4 separate regions of the Homo sapiens genome follow, and all the other regions are linked to region 1. Evidence: fine-mapped expression QTL. A gene starts in region 1. Each other region holds a variant in brackets. All regions are shown on one strand. Distances are between the middles of the regions.

Region 1 (5,153 bases):
TCCCAAAATGTTGCGATTACAGGTGTGAGCCACCCTGCCCGGCCTTGTGTTTCATTTTTAACCCTGATATAAGTAACAACACATCTGCTTATTAATATGTTCATGTTAACATTTACTATCCAGTTTGGGTGGAAGGAGAGTGTTCTCTGCCTCTGAGGTCCAGTTTTAACATTTATAAGTGCAGCGGGTCCTCCTGTTGTGGCCCACAAACCTTACTTGGGAAAATGTCACATTTGAGCAACCACACAAAACTACTCTGTGATCTCTGAATATAGTAAGGTCACCAGCCCCCACTTGATCTTCTGTTAAATGACCAAGATCATTTCTGGTCAGAAAGTATGTGTGTTTTTGCGAGTTTTTTTTGTCTTTGTTGACACATAATGGTGTAGAAATCAAGCTTAAAACTGATTGTAGAACAGTTTGGTGAGAAAGATTTTTGCTTTTCTGCCATAATATTCCCCTGGACTTTGCTTCGGGTCCAAAGTAACACCGGGAAGTTTAAGACCACAGAAATGTGACTAAATGAATGCTGATCACATTTACAAAAGCAAGTGACTTTGTCCAAAGTCTCTCATTCTCAGATCCATAGTAGACATATAGATACTTTTTCTAAGGGCAAAATTTCCTGGTTCACTAAGCCAGACTTCCATGTTATTGACGAAATAAAGATAATATTGAAAATGACAGTGTCTGAGAAGCAATCTCAAACTGCCTTTTATTACTGCACACAGTTAACGTGGAATTGAGAATCACTTTCTTTCTAACATAAAATGTGAGCCGTAGAGTTACTACTGAAATTCACCACAGTGATTCAGCCAACAACTCAACTTATTCCTTTGCAAAAATTTCTGAAGGTTTTTTTTTCTCCCTTCAATCTCAGCATTACAAAATAATGAGCAAACAGTTAAATTGGCCCAGCTCTGAGTTTCAAGAGAGATTTATGGTCTGCTCATCCTCTGGAGGGACCATAAAACCACCGATGACATCTTACTTTGAAATCTCTTGTATTAAGTAAAGAGATGGGTGTGGTGCGATAGTGAACTCTGCATGTGAGTGGTATTTAGACAAGTTCTGTACTTCAAAACAGAGTCCTTAACTCATACGAAGGCTTCCTGCCACTAGCAAGGGATCTCAGTAATGAGCGTGCTGCCTTCCCTAACACCCCCATCCTTTTCCAGAAAGATTCTTAATTTTATCCTAAATATATTTGATATTTTTTCCTCTGTATTTTGCTTTGGGTTTAAAAAATTCCCTGAAAGATTTTTTTCTCGTCTGTGGAAGCATCAAGCCGCAGATCCAAGTCAGTCCAAATCACCAGGATCATACAAGACGATAAAAGTGCCTTCAAGTTCTAATACTTGCTGGATGGGCCCAAGCCGCGTTTTAAATGTGAACAATGGGGTGGCTGCGGCAGAGAACTGACCATTTACTTCCTGCCTCAGATGACCCCCTTGTGATCTCTGAAACTGGGCAGAGGAATAAGGAAAGGGAAAGAACTGGGTTTTGGGGAGAAACATGCTTTCTGGAAGGCGCCCAGGTTTACCCAAAGAGCACAGTTAAGTGCTGAATTTCAACTAGCTCTGGAGTCACCCTGTTTGGGGCCTCATTCTGGAAACCCGAAGTCCAGCGGCAGCTTTCCTCCACATCAGGACAGAGAGTGGGGTTTGGGAGCGGACGAGGGAGCGGGAGTGGACGAGGGAGCAGGAGTGGGGCTCAACGACGACCCAGGCGCTCAAGGGGAAGGGGCTGAGAGCGTTTCTTCGCTGTGCGGCTGCAATAGAAACTTTTTCCTCGTACTATCTGACTCCGGGACTGGACTGTGAGGTCTGCAACAGCTGGTGGGGTTCGGGTGGGGAACACACTCTAAGCCCAGCGCCAGGGCTGGAGCCGTGGGTGGAGCCGCTGCAGCCCTGGGCCGGGGGCGTCAGGAAACTCGAGACTGGGGCGCGGGGAGGCCCCGGCCAGAGCGCCCGCTCTCCCGCGTCCCGGGCGGGGTCCTCACCTGTTCCAGCGGGCCACCTTCCTCCGGTAATACCGCAGCGCCTCCTGGCTGGCCAGGAGCGAGTCCTCGGCTCCCAGGAGAGGCGGCTCCTCCGGGACGTTGTACAGCGGGTGGGCGAAGAGGGCCTGCAACTTGGAGCTCGACCCGCTGTGGCTGCCGCCAGCCGGTTCAGTCCGGGGCTCGGTTCGGGAAAAGTTGTGCACGATCGTGCCGGGGTCCGAGGCAGCTGCGGCCGAGTCCCGCGCCAGGGAGGAGGCGCGGCCGGTGCACGGGCACCCCCGCGGGCGCTCCCGAGGCCGCAGCTGGCGCTGTACTTGGGGCCAGAGGTGGAAGTAGAGGTCGGCGGAGAGCAGCGCGCCCAGCAGCAGCAGAGTCAGTAGGCGGTCCCGGCGCAGCCCCGGCATGGCGTGCTGGCCAAGGGGGACGCCGGGGGCAGGCCGGCTGTCTCCGGGGTCCCGGGAGGGGTCGCGGGGTGCGGGCAGAAGAGGTGCCTGGAGTCCCGCGGGTGGGCCGGGGTCAGTGAGACCGGAATGCTCCCCGCGCGGGCTAGTCCCCTGTGGAGGGGTGTCGCTCCTCAACTTGGGGACCAGGTGCACGGAGCACCGGGGCTCTCGGAGTCAGCGGGCGTCGCTTCTCCGCGCCGAGTGAGCCGAGGGAATGGGGTTCCCGGGGTGCCCGCTTCTTGCGCCTTTTCTCCCGTGCGCCCGCCCGCCCGGACGCTCGCGGCAGGTGAAGGGCCCCGGGGCGCCGGCGCCGGCTGCCACCGCGGGCGGACGGGCGACGGGGCGGGGGGCGACCGCGGAGGGCGGACGGAGGCCGCCGGCTGCAAAGCCCGGGGCGTCTCTCCTGAGGATGCTGTCGCTCGGCGGCGGCTGCTAGTGCTCCCGCGACTCCTCCTGCGGGCGGCGGAGACGCCAGTGCCGGCGGCTGGCACGGGCGGCGCGAGTGGGGAGTTGGCGAAGCAGGAGCGGCTCCGGGGAGCTTGTCTGTGCGCCTGGACTCCTAGAGGCAGAGGTAGCGCGGGGCCTCCCCGAGCCTGGCCTGGCGCCGGCACCCCCACCCACTCTCCGCTGGCACCTGCCTCTGGCGCAGCTGACGGCCAACTCCCGATCCGAAGCCGGCGCTGCCCTTGCACCTTGTCACCCACCCACTGCCTGCGCCCTCCCCCTCGCTCGGGCCTCCCACTTTCCCTGCCCAGGTCTCAATCCAGTCACTTTAAGGGACTCACGCGAGGGGTCCGAAGCCTCTTTTTACCATTTCTATTATTTTTAGGGAAAAAAAAACCACCACAAGCCCCCTAAAACCCTTTTTTTCCTGTAAGCTTTGCCAAATGAGTGTGTGGGGGGGGGTGGGGGGAGGCGGGGGTGGCAGTGTTGGTATCTGTTCTTTCTTTGTGTTCCCTTCCACCTCCGCCCCCCTGCAGAGCGCAGGGCACATCAAGATTCATAACAACTACCTACCACATGCCTGGCACATAGTAGGTGCTCAGGAAACACGCTCTTGGTGAAGGAAAGAGCTTGACCTTTAAAAGTAAGGTATCAGTTTTACCTAGAATCTTGCTGATTTCCTGTTTGGAAGGAGTTTGATTCCAACTCTGCCTGTACTTTAAAAAGAGGAAATGTTTCTTGCACTCAGGGAGGGAGGGGCCCTGATGACCCCACTCCGAACTTTTGAGTTTAGCTTGGTGTGAAAGTAGTCCACCCAAATGAATCACTGGAGGACACATTTAGGCTTTCTCCAATATTCTGTGAGGTAATGTACCCTCCCCACACCCAGTTTTCCTTTTGAAGAAGAGGGAGGGAGTCCTGAACTCCTGGCTCCTCTATTTAATGACCCCATAGTATAGTAAAGTGAAGTCTGATTGGAGAGGCGGCCCCACCCTGCTGAATTTCAGGAAATCCACCAGAAGCTGCTTGCCCAGGCAGCAAAGCTTCCCATGTAAGTTAGTTCTACTCTTTAACCCCCTCCCTTCCCTTGCTGGAATTGAGAACCCTCAGACATACTTTGACTTGTGGGTTCAGACCAGAGTTCTTTTCCCCGTGGTTCAGTGTAAGATTTCTTCGGGACTTTGCAGTCTCCTCAAATGTAAATGAAGATAATGATGGAACCTACCTCCTAAGGTTATTATGAGACTTAAATGAATTGAAGTACAATTATGTGTCACGTCTGAGAAATGCATCCTTAGGCAATTTTCCTGTGTGTGTGAACATCAGGGTGTACTTACACAAACCTAGATGGTTCAGCCTACTACACACGGAGGCTACATGGCATAGCCTGTTGATCCTAGGTACAAACCTGTACAGCATGCGACTACTGAATGCTGTAGGGAGTTGTAACACAGTGGTGAGTACTTGTGTGTCTAAACATAGGAAACATACAGTAAAAATACAGTATTGTAATCTTATGGGACCACTGTTGCATTGACTAAAATGTTATGTGGCACTTGACTATGTATAAATTACTTAGAAGAGCTCCTAACTCATCCTAAATAAGTGTGAAATATGTGTTTGCTATCATTATGATTACTTATTAGTTCCTGTAGTACACTAGGCTTGGTTAGAGACTGCTCATCGCTAGGACAAAAATAGAAAAGGATGGAAAAGGAAGATAGCAGGAAGGAACCTGCTTTCAGGGGCATAACATTGTGGCCTGAGTGCCCAGTCCAAGTGAAAAAGCCCAAGACGGTACTATTCCCAGCTACTCCACTCCTCTGGGTATGATGGTGGGCATTTTGAGGGGTTCTAGAACCTCCTCCTTTTTATCTGGAATTAAATTTTAACTGATTTCCAATTTCTGAGAGACGTTGCAACTTCTAATGTGTTTAATTAGATGTCATGGCAAGCGAATGAAGAAGTCAGGCATTGAATGGTGGTGATGTAACTGCAGTAACTGTGTGGCAAACTGATGCGCATTTTTCTCGGCTGGCAAAGGACGTGGATGTGGTGACACTGCAGGTCTTGTGACTTCAATTCTCCTCAACCCATGGGGTCATACTCGCTTAGTAGACTCTTTTTTTTCTGGCCCCAATTTAGGGAACAATAGTGTAACTTGCTTGGAAATTATGTAAACATATTTTCCATGCCCTTTAAAGGTCACAGTCAAGTGCAGAACTGCATGTGGGAGTTAGATATTAAGTGTGAATGAAGCTGGA
Region 2 (5,153 bases), 28 kb after region 1:
CCAATATGATCTGTCATAAGATGGATAGCGCACTGTTGATTTTAATACATAGCATAATTTCAGAGATGTGTGAACAAAATGTGCATCTTACAATCAGTGACACTATGGTAGTTGTAATCATCACATACACAAATTTTATATAATGTATTTTTTCCTAATTTTTTTTTTTTTGAGACAGGGTCTCACTCTGTCACCAGGTTGGAGTTCAGTGGCTTAATTATGGCTCACTGCAACCTCTGCCTCCCACGCTCAAGTCATTCTCCCATCTCAGCCTTCTGAGTAGCTGGGACTACAGGTGCTCACCACCATGCCTGGCTAATTTTTGTATTTTTTTGCAGAGACAGGGTTTCACCATGTTGCCCAGGCTGGTTTTGAACTCCTGAGCTGAAGCGATCCACCCGCCTCGGCCTTCCAAGGTGCTAGTATAACAGGCATGAGCCACCGCGCCAGGCTCCTGGATGTTTTATCGTGGACATAGTCCAAGGTTGTATGCCATCTTTATCCCATCCATTTTTCTGTGTGTGTGATTTTTTTTTTTTTTTTAGTAGAGACGGGGTTTCACCATGTTAGCCAGGATGGTCTCAATCTCCTGACCTCGTGATCTGCCCGCCTCAGCCTCCCAAAGTGCTGGGATTACAGGCGTGAGCCACCGCGCCTGGCCCCCAATCCATGACAAAAAACTTCGAATAGTACATGTCCATGTATTATTTCTACCAGTTTTTATATACTTCCGGGAATAGTCTGCGCACACTCAAGCATCTCTCTTCCCTTGTTTTCTCTTCTCTTTGTTTTTTCTCTTTTAACACACTTGGTAGCACACTAAGTGCATTGTTCTGCACCTTGCGCTTTTCAGTGAGCAATGTGTCTTGGTAATAGTTTCATAATACTTTGTAAAGATCCTCTTCAATATTGAGGCTGAGAAGTCTGACTTTAGCATTTCCTCCACCATTTTTTCCCTCTAAATTATTATTATTATTTTTTTTTTGCGACAGAGTCTTGCTCTGTCGCCCAGGCTGGAGTTCCGTGGCGCAATCTTGGCTCACTGCAACCTCCACCTCCTGGATTCAAGCAATTCTCTTGCCTCAGCCTCCTGAGTAGCTGGGATTACAGGCATGTGCCATCACACCTGGCTAATTTTTGTATTTTTAGTAGAGACGGGGTTTCACCATGTTGGTCAGGTTGGTCTCAAACTCCTGACCTCGTGATCCACCCACCTCAGCCTCCCAAAGTGCTGGGATTACAGGCATGAGCCACCACGCTTGGCCTCTAAGATCTTTTTAAGATCTTTTATTTATTCATGATTTGTAAAGTTCTGTGATAATTTAGCTCTATTTTTCCTTCTGATGCTGGCTTCCTTGTATATTCTTTCAGTCTACAGGCTGCTAGCTTTTACTCCTGTATGTATGTGTATAAATGTGTGTGTGTGTGTGTGTGTGTGTGTGTGTGTATTTTTCTTTACCTGTTTTCTGTTTGTCTGGAACGGAAACTTCTATTCCTGTTATTTGACTGTTAGGTTTTCTGGGTTAATCCTTTCTCTCATGTCTTGCTTTTGCCCATAATTTTTATTTCCTGATCTCTATTTGCTATCTTTGTGGGAAGGAAACTGGGATGAACTTTATATTCATGGAAAGATAAAGTTCCATAGAAATTTTTACTTTGCGTGCTCTAGCTTTATTTATTAAGAGCTCTTCTTTCCTCACTGATTAATAAATTCTTGTTTTATGGATACATTATCTTCTCATATCTTTCCAAGGATGTTATGTTAAGGTTGTTTTATGGATGCATTATCTTCTCATATCTCTCCAAGGATGACATTTAGCACAAATCCCTTCCTTTCCTTTCCCTTTCTCTTTCTCTTTCTCTCTCTTTCTTTCTTTCTTTTCTCCCTTTCTGGCTCTGTCTTTCTCTTTCTTCCTCCCTTTGTCTCTCCTTTTTAAAAAATTAACCCAAACTTTGGCATATTGAGAAATAATGTGGGAAAAGAGGTAAGGCAGATGAAAGACCAAGAAACCACTTTTATTAAACAATTGAAGAGTCAGGTAGAGGATGCAGTTTAGTCTAAGAGTCCAGTGGGCCTGCAAACTCAACCCCAGAACTGGGAAACTTAGGCAGCCAATCACGGGCAATGCTGAACTGGGACAGGACTCCTCCCATGGTACGACTGTTCTCACTGAGGGGTAGAAAAAAACATGCTCTGTCTTGGAAAGACTCACTCCCAGGAGGAAAGGGTGGAGCTGAACTAAGTCTGACCGGTTCTTTCTCCCAGACTCACCTTTACTGCCCTGTGGGAGAGGCTAGTGGGAGGGTGGGCAAGGCCAGAGCGTGTCCTGCCTCCATGTGGAGGGAGATACGGGAAGCTGGTAAGTCTCCCTGCCAACCTCTCCTTGGGGTGGAGGGTCAGTTCCTGGTTTCTGGCACTCTGTGTGTGGGAGTAGGTGAAGGTGCTGACTGTTATAAATACTGAATTCCATCTTAGCCTCCAGGGTTGCTCTTGTGTCCCCCTCCTACACTCTGTGATATCAGATGTCCCCAGCTTATGAGTTTCTCTGACTCTCTGTGGTGGGGAGAGGCAGGTCTATTCTCAGCCCTCTGCTTTTATTCACAGCTTTCTCTGCCCTGCTAAAGAAGTTACTCCCTCTGCCCTGTTTCTCCTTCCTCAAAACTGTTTATCTTTCCCATTCAGGACATCTCTTGTCCTGATGTCTCTGTTTGTGAGAATTTATGTATTTTTTTCTCCTTTACTGTGGAAAGAGATGCATTAAAGCACAAGCTTTAGATTCTTACACTTGCTTTGCCGCATACTAACTATGTGACTTTGGACAAGTTATTTAACCTCTCTTTGCCTTAGATTCTTCAATTGTAAAATGGATTGTTATAAGGTTGGAAAGTGACAACACATGTAAAGTGCCCAGATTAACGTCTGGCACCCAGAGAACATTCAATAAATATTAGTCATCATCATTACCATCTCAGCATCTTCTTAGTGGAGTTTTGGGAAGGGTAGGATGTAAATATGAGTGTTCTATTAATATCGCCATCTTTCTACATCAACTTGTCCAACCTGCAGCCCACAGGCCACATGTGGCCCAGGATGGCTTTGAATGCAGCCCAACACAAAATTCATAAACATTCTTAAAACATTACGAGATTTGTGCATGGA[C/CTT]TTTTTTTTTTTTTTCAGTAGCTCATCAAGTAATGTTAGTGTTAGTGTAGTTTATGTGTAGTCCAAGACAATTCTTCTTCTTCCAATGTGGCCCAGGGAAGCCAAAAGATTGAACATCCCTGTATCTACATGGTCTTCGTAGCTTTTGTTTTTATTGGTACTTTCTCCACACTGTAATTTCCATGGAGGAAAGGTCTATCTTTTTTTTTATTCTGTATTATATCTATAGCACTTGGCAAACACATGACCTATGGTATGTACTCAGACAATATTTGTGGGGTGAATCAATGAAAACAAATTCGCTCATAACATTTCTTGTAGGAGACAATATTGTATGGTAATCAAAAACATGGGCTTTTAAATGACACTGTTTGGGTTTGAACTATGGCTGGGTCATTCACTGATAGTGCAACCTTGAACACTTTCTTAATTTCTCTACCCTTCAATGTCCCCACCTGTAAACTGAGGATAAAAATTGTACCTACCTCATAAGGGTAATATGAGGACTAACAGCAATAAACTGTGAAGCATTTAACATCATGACTGGCACATAGTAATTGCTCAATGAACATTAGCTTCGATCATTGGTGGTGCTTTTGTAATTGTTTATTGCCTATATGCCAGTCACTGGGTTAGGCACAAGTATATACATCACTTACTGAGGCCCTATGATTTGCTGTATACTGTATTTAATAGCGTACACAGTAGTACTTCCTTTTCTTTTCTTGTTTTTTGAGACAGAGTCTCGCTCTATTACCCAGGTGGGAGTGCAGTGGTGTGATCTCTGCTCACTGCAATCCCTCCCTGCCTCCTGGGCTTAAGCTGTCCTCCTATGTCAGCCCTCTGGGTAGCTGAGACCACAGGCACACATCACTATGCCTGGCTAGTTTTTGTATTTTTTTGTAGAGACAGGGTTTCATCATGTTGCCCAGGCTGATCTCGAACTCCTGAGCGTATGTGATCCACCCGCTTCGGCCTCCTAAAGTGCCGGGATTACAGGCATGAGCCACAGCGCCCGGCTTGTAGTAGTTTCTATAGTCAGATACTGCGTGTGGTTTCTATAGTCAGTGGATTTGAATTCAACCCTGCTATTCAGACCTCAGCTGAATAACTTAGAACAAATTAGTTAATCTTATTGAGCCTCACTATTAATATTTGTAGAATAGGGTAATGATAAACCTACCTATAGGGTAGTTATGAGGCAAACCATGTAAAGCCCTTAGCACAGAGCTTAGCACATAGTACATGCTCAGTAAATATTAGCTATGATGATGATGATGTTGACAACAACAATTATGGTGGCAGTGACAATGATAAAACCATGGTAATTATAGTGGTGACAGGAATGATAGTGGTGACAACAGCGATGGTTGTGTCTGTGACAATGTTGATAAGGGTGTCAGTGATGCCGGCAATGAGGATAACCATACTGACCTGAGAGGCAGGAACATGCAGGAGTTATGTGCTTTGGTTGTAGAGTCAGAGGAACCTGGAGCCAAGTATCTGTTCTGTCTTAACTAGATGTGTGACTTTAAGGAAGCAATTTTATCTAATTAAATTTTGGCATCCTCTTCTGTAAAAACAATCATTGTTTCGCAGGGCTGTTGGGAAGTTTAAAAAAATGTTATATATCATTCCTTAAAGATGCCTATTTTTCATATTTTAACATCTCTGAAATTAGAAATGCATCTTGCAGTTACTGTCAGCCAGGCAGAACTAAATTTGTTTTAATTTTTAATTTTTGTGGGTACATGGTAGGCATCTATATTTGTGGGATGCATGAGATACTTTGATATAGGCATGCAATGTGAACATTCAGACTGAATTTTTCTTTCTCTTATATTCTCTTTCTCATGAAGACACAAGAGTAATTCTATGACAGTCACTAAATATAAGTACAAAAGTCTTCTCAATAAGTAGAAAATAAAACCTCAAACTGATAAACTGTGTTATAACTTAACTGACAGTGTTTTATTTACTTTTTAAAGGTACA
Region 3 (5,153 bases), 27 kb before region 1:
AATATTCTATAAATAACCGATTATTAGATGCTTGAACACGTTTCCTGCTGCCAAAGCTCCATCATACTCCAAAACACTAGTATCAAAACTTGAGGAAGAAAATCCCTTGGACACAGGAATTGCACTTGAATTCTATCCATGGAGTTCATAAGGTTGGTCTCACTCATTTAATACATTTCCAAGAGCACTCTGTCACACAGACAATTAGAAAAGCATTATAGTGAACTTCTATAGCACTCGGCTTTTAAATTAAATCTTGCATCTGTTTGATCCATATGTCTCTTTCAGTGTTCTTATCCTTGACGTGGGTCCTAGAAAGAACATTTTCTCAAGGTTGTTTTTCTTTTTTTTCCCCATGGCTGTGATGAATTTGGAAGAATCCTCCTTCATACTGTTCTATTTCTCCTGTGACACGGAAGGATTCAGGTTTTGTGAGACCTGAAGCTAATACAATTTGGAGGACCATCTTTAAGCAAAAGAGTACAAAATTACGAATACAAAACCAGGTATGAGAGTAAAGGTTTATTTAGAATGAAAAAGAATCAATAAATTACTGGTGACTTGAAGGCTTTTTTCTGAGATATCAAACTTATGTAGAAATATATATATGTGTGTGTGTGTATATATATGTGTGTGTATATACATACATATATATATATATATATATATATATATATATATATATATATATATATATATATGTAGCAGGGAATATAGGTGCATTCCACTACAACTGGCTATTATTTTTATTTTTATTTCTTTGTAGAGACAGGGTTTTTCCATGTTGCCCAGGCTGGTCTTGGACTCCTGGGCTCAAGCCATTCACCTGCCTTGACTTCCCAAAGTACTGGGATTACAGGTGTAAGCCACAGTGCCCAGCTGTATGTAGAAATATTTCTTGATCATAACCTGGCTCCCTTCTCAACTCCACAGCATTCAGCACCCACAGGGGAAGTGAGGGGAAGTGGGCTGAGGCTTCATCAGCTTCATGGTAAATCTGCCTCTGACAGGCAATTGTGCAATTCACAATCCAGGCGTATTTGTTGAGCACTTTCAGAGACATTAAGTCTGGGTCCTTATCCAATGGACTTTCTTGATTCTTCTAACCAGTTTCTGAGTATGAGACCATCAGAGCAGTAACACTGAGTAGTAGTAACTGGGCCAAGAAGGGCATGGGCTTTTGGAAATGGCTTTTTGGTGTTCACTGTTGGAATGGGCTTCATTTCTGAAACCTCAGCACTGCGTTTGTGCCGGCTGCCTGTGTTCATGATAGAATTATGCAGAACGATCAACTCTCCCCAAAATGCATCTTCAGCAGAACGAGCTGACTCATCATCAGAATTCTATGGGTTGTCATAAGCAGGCTGAAGAATTGTTTCTGTTTTCTTTTTAATTTTATTTATTTATTTATTTATTTTTGTTTTAAGAATTGTTGACTGACTTCTTCCCACCGCTCCATCTCATGGGCTCAAAAAACATATTTCTCATTGCTTCCCTTTCTGTTCATCTGCCTCCTCGCCCATTTATCTCTGTGTCCTAGAGGCCAAGGGAAGTCCAAACAAAGCTCTGAGGCAATGTGAGTGGGCCGGAGCTGCAGTGATCTGCTAGACCCCAAAGTGAGCTCCCAATTCCTTCTCATGTCACCTCCCCAAAGAGAAATGCACCCCCGCTTTGGAGGCTGTCCTTCCAGCCCTGAAAGATTATCTGCTTCAGCTAGCTCATGAATCAAAGCTTGATTTTAAGGAGCAGGTGATAGGTGGTAAATGCTGCTGTATCTGTAAATCAGAGTCACCATTAGTGATGGGTTTGTGAATCTAGAAAGGGGAAAGGGTGGGAGAGGCAGATCCCTCATCCCGAGTCCTGGCTCTGCCACTCACAGCTGTGTGACCTAGGGCAAGTTATCTAACCTCTCTGCGCCTCACCTCATGTGAAAAGTCAGGATAATAAATGTACCCACCTTATAGAATTTTAGTGAGGATTAAATGAATTAAAGTTTATGTTTCTTAGCCTGTTTTTTGTTGCTTTATAACAAAATACTTGAAACTGGGCAATTTATAAGAAATAACACTTCTCCCTTTCCCTTTCTTTCCTTTCTCTTTCTTTCTTTCTTT[CTTTCTTCT/C]TTCTTTCTTTCTTTCTCTTTCTTTCTTTCCTTTCTTTCTCTCTCTTTCTCTTTTCCTTCTTTCCTTCCTTCCTTCCTTTCTTTCCTTTCTTTCCCTCTCTTTCTCTTTTCCTTCTTTCCTTCCTTTCTTTCCTTTCTTTCTCTCTCTTTTCTTCCTTCCTTCCCTCCCTCCTTCCCTCCTTTCTTTCTTCCTTTCTTCCTTTCTTTTCTTTCTTTCTTTTCTCTTTTTTTTTCTTTCAACAGAGTTAAGCTCTTGTCGCCCAAGCTGGAGTGCAGTGGTGTGATCTTGGCTCACTGCAACCTCTGCCTCCTGGGTTGAAGTGATTCAGCCTCCCAAGTAGCTGGGAATACAGGTGCCAGCCACCATGCCCAGCCCAGCTAATTTTTTTGGTATTTTTAGTAGACACAGAGTTTCACCATGTTGGCCAGGCTGGTCTTGAACTTCTGACCTCAGGTGATCCGCCTGCCTCAGCCTCCCAAAGTGCTAGGATTACAGGTGTGAGCCACCACACCTGACCACATTTATTTCTTACAGTTTTAGAGGCTGGGAAGTCCAAGGTTGAGGGGCATATCTGATGAGACCCTTCTTGGTGGTGGGAACTCTCTCTAGAGTTCTTTTTTTTGAGACAGGGTCTCACTCTGTCACTCAGGCTGTACTGCAGTGGAGCTATCATGGCTCATTGCAGCCTCAACCTTCTAGGCCCAAGTGATCCTCCCACCTCAGCCTCCCAAGTAACTGGGACCACAGGCGTGTGCCACCATGCCCGGCTAATTTTGTTTATTTTTATAGAGACAGGATCTCCCTATGTTGCCCAGGCTGGTCTCAAACTCCTAGGCCTAAGCGATCCTCTGCAGAGTTCTGAGGTGGTGCAGGGCATCACATGGCGAGGGGGCTGAGTGTGCTAGCTCCGGTTTCCTTTCCTCTTCTTATAGCACCATGAGACCCACTCCCACGATAACCCGTTAATCTGTTAATCCATGGATCCATAAATGAGTTAATCCATTCATGACAGTAGAGCCCTCATAACTCAATCACCTCTTAAGGACCCCACTTCTCAACATTGCCACATTGGAGATTAAGTTTTAACATGAATTTTGGAGAAGACAAGCATTCAAACCGTAACATCATGTGAGTTATTGTTACTGTGACTTCTGGGACTCAGTACTGGTAACTTTATCCTTTACAAAGGGGAAGGAATACTGTGAAGAATTATTTCCAACTTCTGCTTAATTTCCCAGTTACCTGAGTTCTGCTTACCAAGGTGAAGTCAAGAGCTCTATTTGGCATTCCCTAGGATGGTCCCTGGGGTAGGCTGAATAATGGTGCCCCCAAAGAGATCTGCGTCTTAATCTCTGGGCTTGTACATACCCTATGTGTCCAGATGGGCTGGCAGATATGATTAAAGTAAGAATCTTGAGATGGAGAGATGATCCTGGGTTATTTGGGTGGGCCCTACATGTAATTACAAGAACCCTTATAAAACAGACACATAGACAAGAAGACAGAGAAAAGAGGATGAGGCAATGTGACCACAGAGGCAGAGACTGGCATGAGGTGGCCACTAGTCGATAGGTACAACTATTATGTATCAATATTTTTTTAAAAAAGAAATTCCTGGAGTCACCAGAAGCTGAAAGAGATAAGAAATGGATTCTCGCCTAGAGCCTCAGGAGGGGACACAGCCTTGCATACATCTTGAGCTTGGACTTCTGGCCTCCAGAAATGTAAGACAATAAATTTATGTTGTTTTAGGCCAGTCAGTTTGTAATAATGTGTTCTGGTGGCTTTTACAAATATACAAGCAGGCCAGGCACAGTGGCTCATGCCTGTAATCTTAGCACTTTGAGAGTCCAAGGCAGGAGGATTGCCTGAGGCCAAGAGTTCAAGACCAACCTGGCCAACACAGGTTCACTTTACTTTACATATATATATATATTTTATATATATATGTCTTCACTTTATATATATTATATATTTTATATATTATATATTTTATATATTATATATAATATATTTTATATATTATATATTATAGATATTAGATATTATATATTTTATATATTATATAATATATATTTTATATATTATATAATATATATTTTATATATTATATAATATATTCTATATTTTATACATTATATATAATATATTCTATATTATATATAAAATATAATATAGAATATTATATTTTATATATATTTTATATTTATATATTATATTTTTATATTTTATATTATATATATTATATATTATATATTTTATATTTTATATATTATATATTTTATATATTATATATATTTTATATTTTATATATTGTATATTTTATATTATACACACACACACACACACACACACACACACACACACACACATAATCAGCCATTGGCAGTTACAGCTGCCACCGGGCAGGGCGTGATGTTTAGGCACTGCTGTTTCTGAGAACCAAGTCCAAAGGGCGCCCCCTAAGAATGGCCTTTCCCTTGCCCAGGAGCTAACCCTGGGGAAGTGGATGGTGTTAGGCTGGAGAGAGGTTCTTGCTTCTTCATCTCATCCCGAATTCTGAAACTTGGCTGCATGCTGAGCCCTTTAAATGGGTCTGGCCAGCCAATGGAACAAGCTCCCATAAGAGTACAAAAGCCCAGTGCTCAGCCAGCTCCAAATTCGTAGTGCCATGGTCCTCTCTGGCTCTCTAGACCCTGCCCCCATACCTGCCTCAAGCACTCTTTGCTTCAATCCCCCACACCTCACATGTAATAATTGTCACCATTTCTGGAGCCATGGCTCTCTGCCAGCACCTTTTATGAAGACTTCACATGTGCTGGCTCATGACTCTTCACAACAGCCCCATAAGACAGGTCCATTGTTAGCCCATTTTATAGATGAGGAGACTGACTTGAGCTAGCTCAAGGTCACCTGCCTGGTGAGTGGCAGGCACAGTGCAGTGATTTGGACCTGGCCGACTGGCTTCCTAGGCCAAGCTCTTCATCATGACCCTACGTGCTGACTGCATCATGGTCCATCTGGCACCTCCTG
Region 4 (5,153 bases), 140 kb after region 1:
AATAAGCCTCACATTCTAAGTGCTATTTCTACTTGAAGCAGTTACTGATTACTAAATTCCACATGCCTAGAGCGCTGATCTAAAAAAACAAGCAGAAAATAGTAGCTTAGAAGATAAAAAGCTAAGCAGAGGTTTCAGCAGTCTCACTGCTGGAGAGACAAACATTGAAATTCAGAGCTTGCCAAGGAGGAGGGGCCTGGCGAACATCCTAGGCTTTTAGTTGAGCCTCATCAGGTGCTATGCACTAGGATTAAGGTGACCAGAAATTGACCAGCTCTCACAAAGCCTGAAACAGAGCTTTCATCCGTTGTTGGATGAAAACACATGATTTTCATCCCTTGTTGGATCAAGGTGATGAGACTAACCATATTTGCTTGCCAGAAGAAAATTAATCATCTCTGGAGAAAGATAACATCACCTAGAACCACTGTAGTTTTTACATACAATGTCTGACAGTCAATTAAAATGACCTGATATACCAGGAAGCACGGCCAATCAACCCAGTCCTAAGAGGAAAAACAGACAGTAGTGAGACACAGACTTTAAAATAAATATTATAAATATGTTAAAAAACAAATGAACATATAGAGAATTTCACTAGAGAATTGGAAATGATTTTATTGTGGATAAAAAGACGTAGAAATTTATAGGTTAAAAAATAACATAAGAAATGAAGAATTTAATAAATGGATTTAATAGCAGATTAGACACAGAAGAAGAAATGGCTAGTAAATTCTCTTTTAAAATACCCAGATTGGAGCACAGATACTAAAATAAAGAATGGAAAATATAGAAAAAGTATAAGAAGCCTATGAAAATTTCTGAAATTGGCTAGCATGTGTAATTGGAGTGCCAGAAAAAGAGGAGAAATGGTGTTAGGGAGAAACAGTATTTGAAAAGATGCTGGTTGATAATTTCCAAGTTGACAAAAGGCATCAATTCACAAATTGAAGAATCTCTTACACTAAGCGAAGTAAATGTAAAGACAGCCCAACCTATTAAAATTGCAGAAAGACCAAGAAAGTAAAAAAATGTTAGAAGCAGCTGGAGAAAAAAGACATATTATATTCAAAGGAGAAATTATATGGCCAAAAGCTGTCTTTCAACATAAACTATAGAAGCCAGAAGATAATAAAATGATAAGTTTAAAGTGCCGAAGGAAAAAGGTGCTAATATAGAAAACTACACCCAGAAAAACTATCCCTTAATAAGTGAAGATGAAATATAGACATTTTGAGAAAGAATTTTGTAGATTAAAAAAATTGGAGGTTATTCATTTTCATTTTGTAAAAGAATGATACCAAAAACTTGGCTAGAAAGGAAAACTATAGGCCAATCTCTCTTACAAAAATATGTAAAAATTTAAACATTATACTAGCAAATCACACCCAGTGACGTATAAGGTAACACATCATGCAAATTTGCCTCCTGGAATGCAAATTTGGTTTAGCATTTGATAATCAAATAATGTAAGTCACCATGTTAACAGAATAAAGACTAAAAAACATAATAATCTCATTGGATGCAGAAAGAATATTTGATAAAATTCAACACCTATTCATGATAAAAAATCACCTTACAAACTAGGAAACAAAGGGAACTTTTTAAATTTGATAAAGGTTATTTATAAAGGACTTATAGCAAACATCCTGCTTAATGGTGAAATATTGAAAGCTTTCCCGCTGAGATCAGGGGCAAGATAAGGATGCTTACAAATACCACCTATTTTCAGTATGGCATAGAAGGTCAGTGCAATAAAGCAATGAAAAAAAAAAGCCTTTAAAAATGGCAGATGAATAAATGAAACAATTACTATTTGAGGAAGCCACATATATAAACACTATTTGTGCATGTACAAAATTCAAAAGAATCTACTAGCAAACAATTAGAATTAATAAGTAAATTTAGCAAGGTTGATGGATAAAAGGTCAACATAGAAAAATCAACTGTATTTTTATACAGTACCAATAATTACAAATGAAAAATTTTAAATGACACCTCTTACAGTCACACCAATAACTTAAAAAATCTAGAAATATGTCTAAACGAGATTTTATTATCTTTGCATAGAACACCATAAAAATTATTGTATTAGTTTCATAGGTCTGCTGTAACAAATTACCACAAATTAGTGCCTTTTAAGGCACAAATTAGTGCCTTAAAACAATAGAAATTTATTCTCTTAC[T/A]GTTATGGAGGTCAGAAGTCTGAGCCAACATGTTGGCAGGGACATCCACCTTCTGGAGTCTCCAGGGGGAACTCTTTCCCTGCCTCTTCCAGCTTCTGGTGGCTCCGGGCATTCCTTGGTTGCATGACTTTAATCTCTTCCTCCATCTTCACATAGCCTTCTCCCGTATGTGTGTGTGTGTGTGTGTGTGTGTGTGTGTGTGTGTGTGTGTGTGTGTGTGTGTGAGAGAAATCTCCTGCTTTTCTCTTATCAGGACACCTGACATTAGATTTAAGACTTATGCTAGACCCAGGATGATCTCGAAAAATTTTAAATGTCAAGATCCTTAACATTAGTTATATCTACAAAGACTCTTTTCCTGATAAGTATGACATGAACAGGAGAAAGGGAAACACTGGGTAGAAGAGGGTGGTTCCCTGGCAAAGGCACAACCCTCAAGCCTGGAGACCCGTGGCCCTAAGTGGGAACAGGCATTTCTGTTTTCACACCCAAAAAGTTGCCTTTTGGCCCTCCACACGCCCTATCCTGTACCCATATAAACTCCGAATCCCAGGCTCCACAAGCAGACAAGCAGACAGATGAGCAGATGAGGAGACAAGGAGATGAGGAGACAAGCAGATGAATGGTGGAATGGCATGACAGAGAAGCAGAGAAGAGAAGGAACGTCTAAACACTGAGAGGAGTCCGGCTGGGTTTGGTTGAAGAAGAGTTTGGCCACTAGATGGCCAAACTCCAGGAGAAGATCAACTTCCCACTCCATCCCCCTTCCAGCTCCCTATCCAACTCACTGACAGCCACCTCCAGCACTCAGTAAAACTCCATGTTCATCCCTCAAGCCTATGTGTGACCTGATTCTTCTGGGATGCTGGGCAAGAGCTGAGGATAAAGAAAGCTGTCACATTGGCCCTCTGCCCTTGTGAAAAGGCAGAGGTGTCCATTGAGCTGGTTAACACTTAAGCCATCTGTGGATGGCAAGGCTATAAGAGCACTGTAACACTGGGGCCTCAGACACCCACCCCTAGATGCCACCATGGGGCCAGAGCCCAAAGCACTCACCCCGGCTCTTGCACCTACCTGTTTGTGTGCTCCTGCTCCTGTCAGGGGTGTGAGCAGTGGCAGAGACCAAAGAGGGGAGCCACACCCCTGTTATATGTCTTGTGAGGGCGATCAGGGAACTCTCCTGTTTCAAAGTCCCATTCACAGGTTTTGGGTGGAAATATCTTTTGGGCTGGGGGACCCACAATTCTAACACACTACAATTTTCAAGAGAAATTAGTAATACTCTAAATAAATGGAAAAACATATTATAGTCATAGATTAAATATTGTAAAGATGGTAATGCTCACCAAACCAACTTATACATCCAATATCCTATCAAATCTTTGAAGTTTTTTTTAAATTGACAAACTAATTTTAAAATTTATATAGACAAGCAAGTGACCAACCATGTTAAAGATGATCTTGAAGAATAGAGTTGGAGGCTCTACACTACAGATAATATTATTATGAGGTTACAGTAAATATAGAAGAATGTTATTGATTTAAGGGTATACCAATGGTAGAGGAGAAGAGTGTGCAAAAACAATTCCATACATATACAGTCACCTAATTTACAACGACGTTACAGCATCACAGACAGATGACATTTTTAATAAATGTTGCTGAATCAATTAGATATTCACATGGGAATAATAATCTCGATTGCTTACTCACACCAAATAGGAAAATCAGTTCTAGAAAATATAAAAGGTAAAACAATAAACTTCTATAAAAAAGAGAAAATACTTAAACTTAGGGTGGATAGTAGTTTTTAAACAGGATTCACAATAAACGAAAGGAAAGAATATTTGATAAATTGGACTTCATGAAAATAAAATATTGCTGTTTTTCAAAAGATGCTATAATAAAAGAGAAAACTCATTTACTGGGAAAAGAAATTTGAAATATATATCTAACAAAGGACTTATATCTAGTATCTATAAAGAATTTCTACAAATCATTAAGGAAAAAAACTCAAAAAAAAGGGTAAACAAATTACTTCCCAAAGAGACTATTTAACTGGACATTCAACAAAGAAAAAATGTTCAACGTTATTAGTCATCAGGAAAATGCAAATTAAAACTACATGAGATACTATTAGACACCCAAATGGCCCAAATTAAAAAAACCAAAAACGTAACCTAGTACGACATGCAACATTATTATTTAACTGTCATTAGTGTAACCTAGTACAAAAGGCAATATTATTTTTTCTAAGAAAAAAGAGAATGAGTTACTATTTTTAAAAATTGTTTTCTCTTCATTTCTGTTTACTCTATTTCCCCCATTCCTGACTTCCTACTTAGCCCTTTAGAAATGCAATTATAACCTCTTACCTCCCCTCACCAGATACTTGCTGCAGATCAAGTTCATGTAACTATGTGCTTAGAAGCTCCAGAGAGGAACTCTCACCCACCAGGAGACTGCCTTGAGAGATAATAGTCAACTCATAACCCAAAGTATGTTTGCTACAAAACTCTCTCCCACCCAGAGAGTTTTCAGCCACCTTTACAACCTATTTCTGCCCATGAAAATGCCAACTCTACTGCCCGATAGGTAAGGCACCAATGTGATATGCAGGCCCCGACTTGTTCATTTCCACCTCTGCATAGACTCCCTCTTTAAAAGCACCCACTTTCTGCTGCAAAAGTGAAGCAGTACCGTTAAGGATACTTAAGGCAGGAAGCCTGTACTTCCCCTATACTACTTTAGGAATAAAAAGTCACTTTCTTTATACCAGACCTCACTCTTGTTAGTTAGACTCTGCTGGTGGTGAGTGACTGACCCTGTGTTTTGGTTACTAAGCAGTGTTGAGAACTTGGAGTAAATGGAATGTTCATACAATACTAGTCAGTGTAAATTTATATAACCACTTTGAAAAGCTGTTTGTCTATATCTATTAAACCTATGAATATATGCATGCCCTAC

Which allele goes with the higher level. Alleles are on the strand shown, and positions count from the first base shown. SD is a standard deviation of normalised expression in the study named. Not every link is listed here.
With allele A in place of T in region 4, the expression in thyroid of the gene that starts at base 3,107 in region 1 is lower (small effect, 0.16 SD a copy in GTEx).

The links. PIP is the estimated chance that this variant, and not a neighbour inherited with it, causes the effect. A credible set is the group of variants that fine-mapping cannot tell apart.
Region 2: its variant is the best candidate, but not a certain one, in a credible set for the expression of FAM20A in whole blood (INTERVAL, PIP 0.55).
Region 3: its variant is the best candidate, but not a certain one, in a credible set for the expression of FAM20A in whole blood (INTERVAL, PIP 0.72).
Region 4: its variant is the best candidate, but not a certain one, in a credible set for the expression of FAM20A in thyroid (GTEx, PIP 0.63).

What each region holds. Positions count from the first base shown.
Region 1 is chr17:68,598,261-68,603,413 of GRCh38, forward strand. It overlaps FAM20A (FAM20A golgi associated secretory pathway pseudokinase), which reads right to left and starts at 3,107. Exons shown (of 11, transcript NM_017565.4): 1 at 2,003-3,107. The coding sequence starts at 2,406.
Region 2 is chr17:68,625,827-68,630,979 of GRCh38, forward strand. LINC01482 (long intergenic non-protein coding RNA 1482) reads left to right here and starts at 2,328. Exons shown (of 5, transcript NR_110825.1): 1 at 2,328-2,360. RefSeq lists a silencer at 2,342-2,636. The variant C/CTT (reference allele first, on the strand shown) is at 3,161.
Region 3 is chr17:68,571,341-68,576,493 of GRCh38, forward strand. All of the region lies in intron 1 of FAM20A (FAM20A golgi associated secretory pathway pseudokinase), which reads right to left. Among named protein-coding and RNA genes, the nearest start is that of FAM20A, 27 kb to the right of the region's middle. The variant CTTTCTTCT/C (reference allele first, on the strand shown) is at 2,112.
Region 4 is chr17:68,738,093-68,743,245 of GRCh38, forward strand. No RefSeq gene overlaps it. Among named protein-coding and RNA genes, the nearest start is that of LINC01482, 110 kb to the left of the region's middle. The variant T/A (reference allele first, on the strand shown) is at 2,187.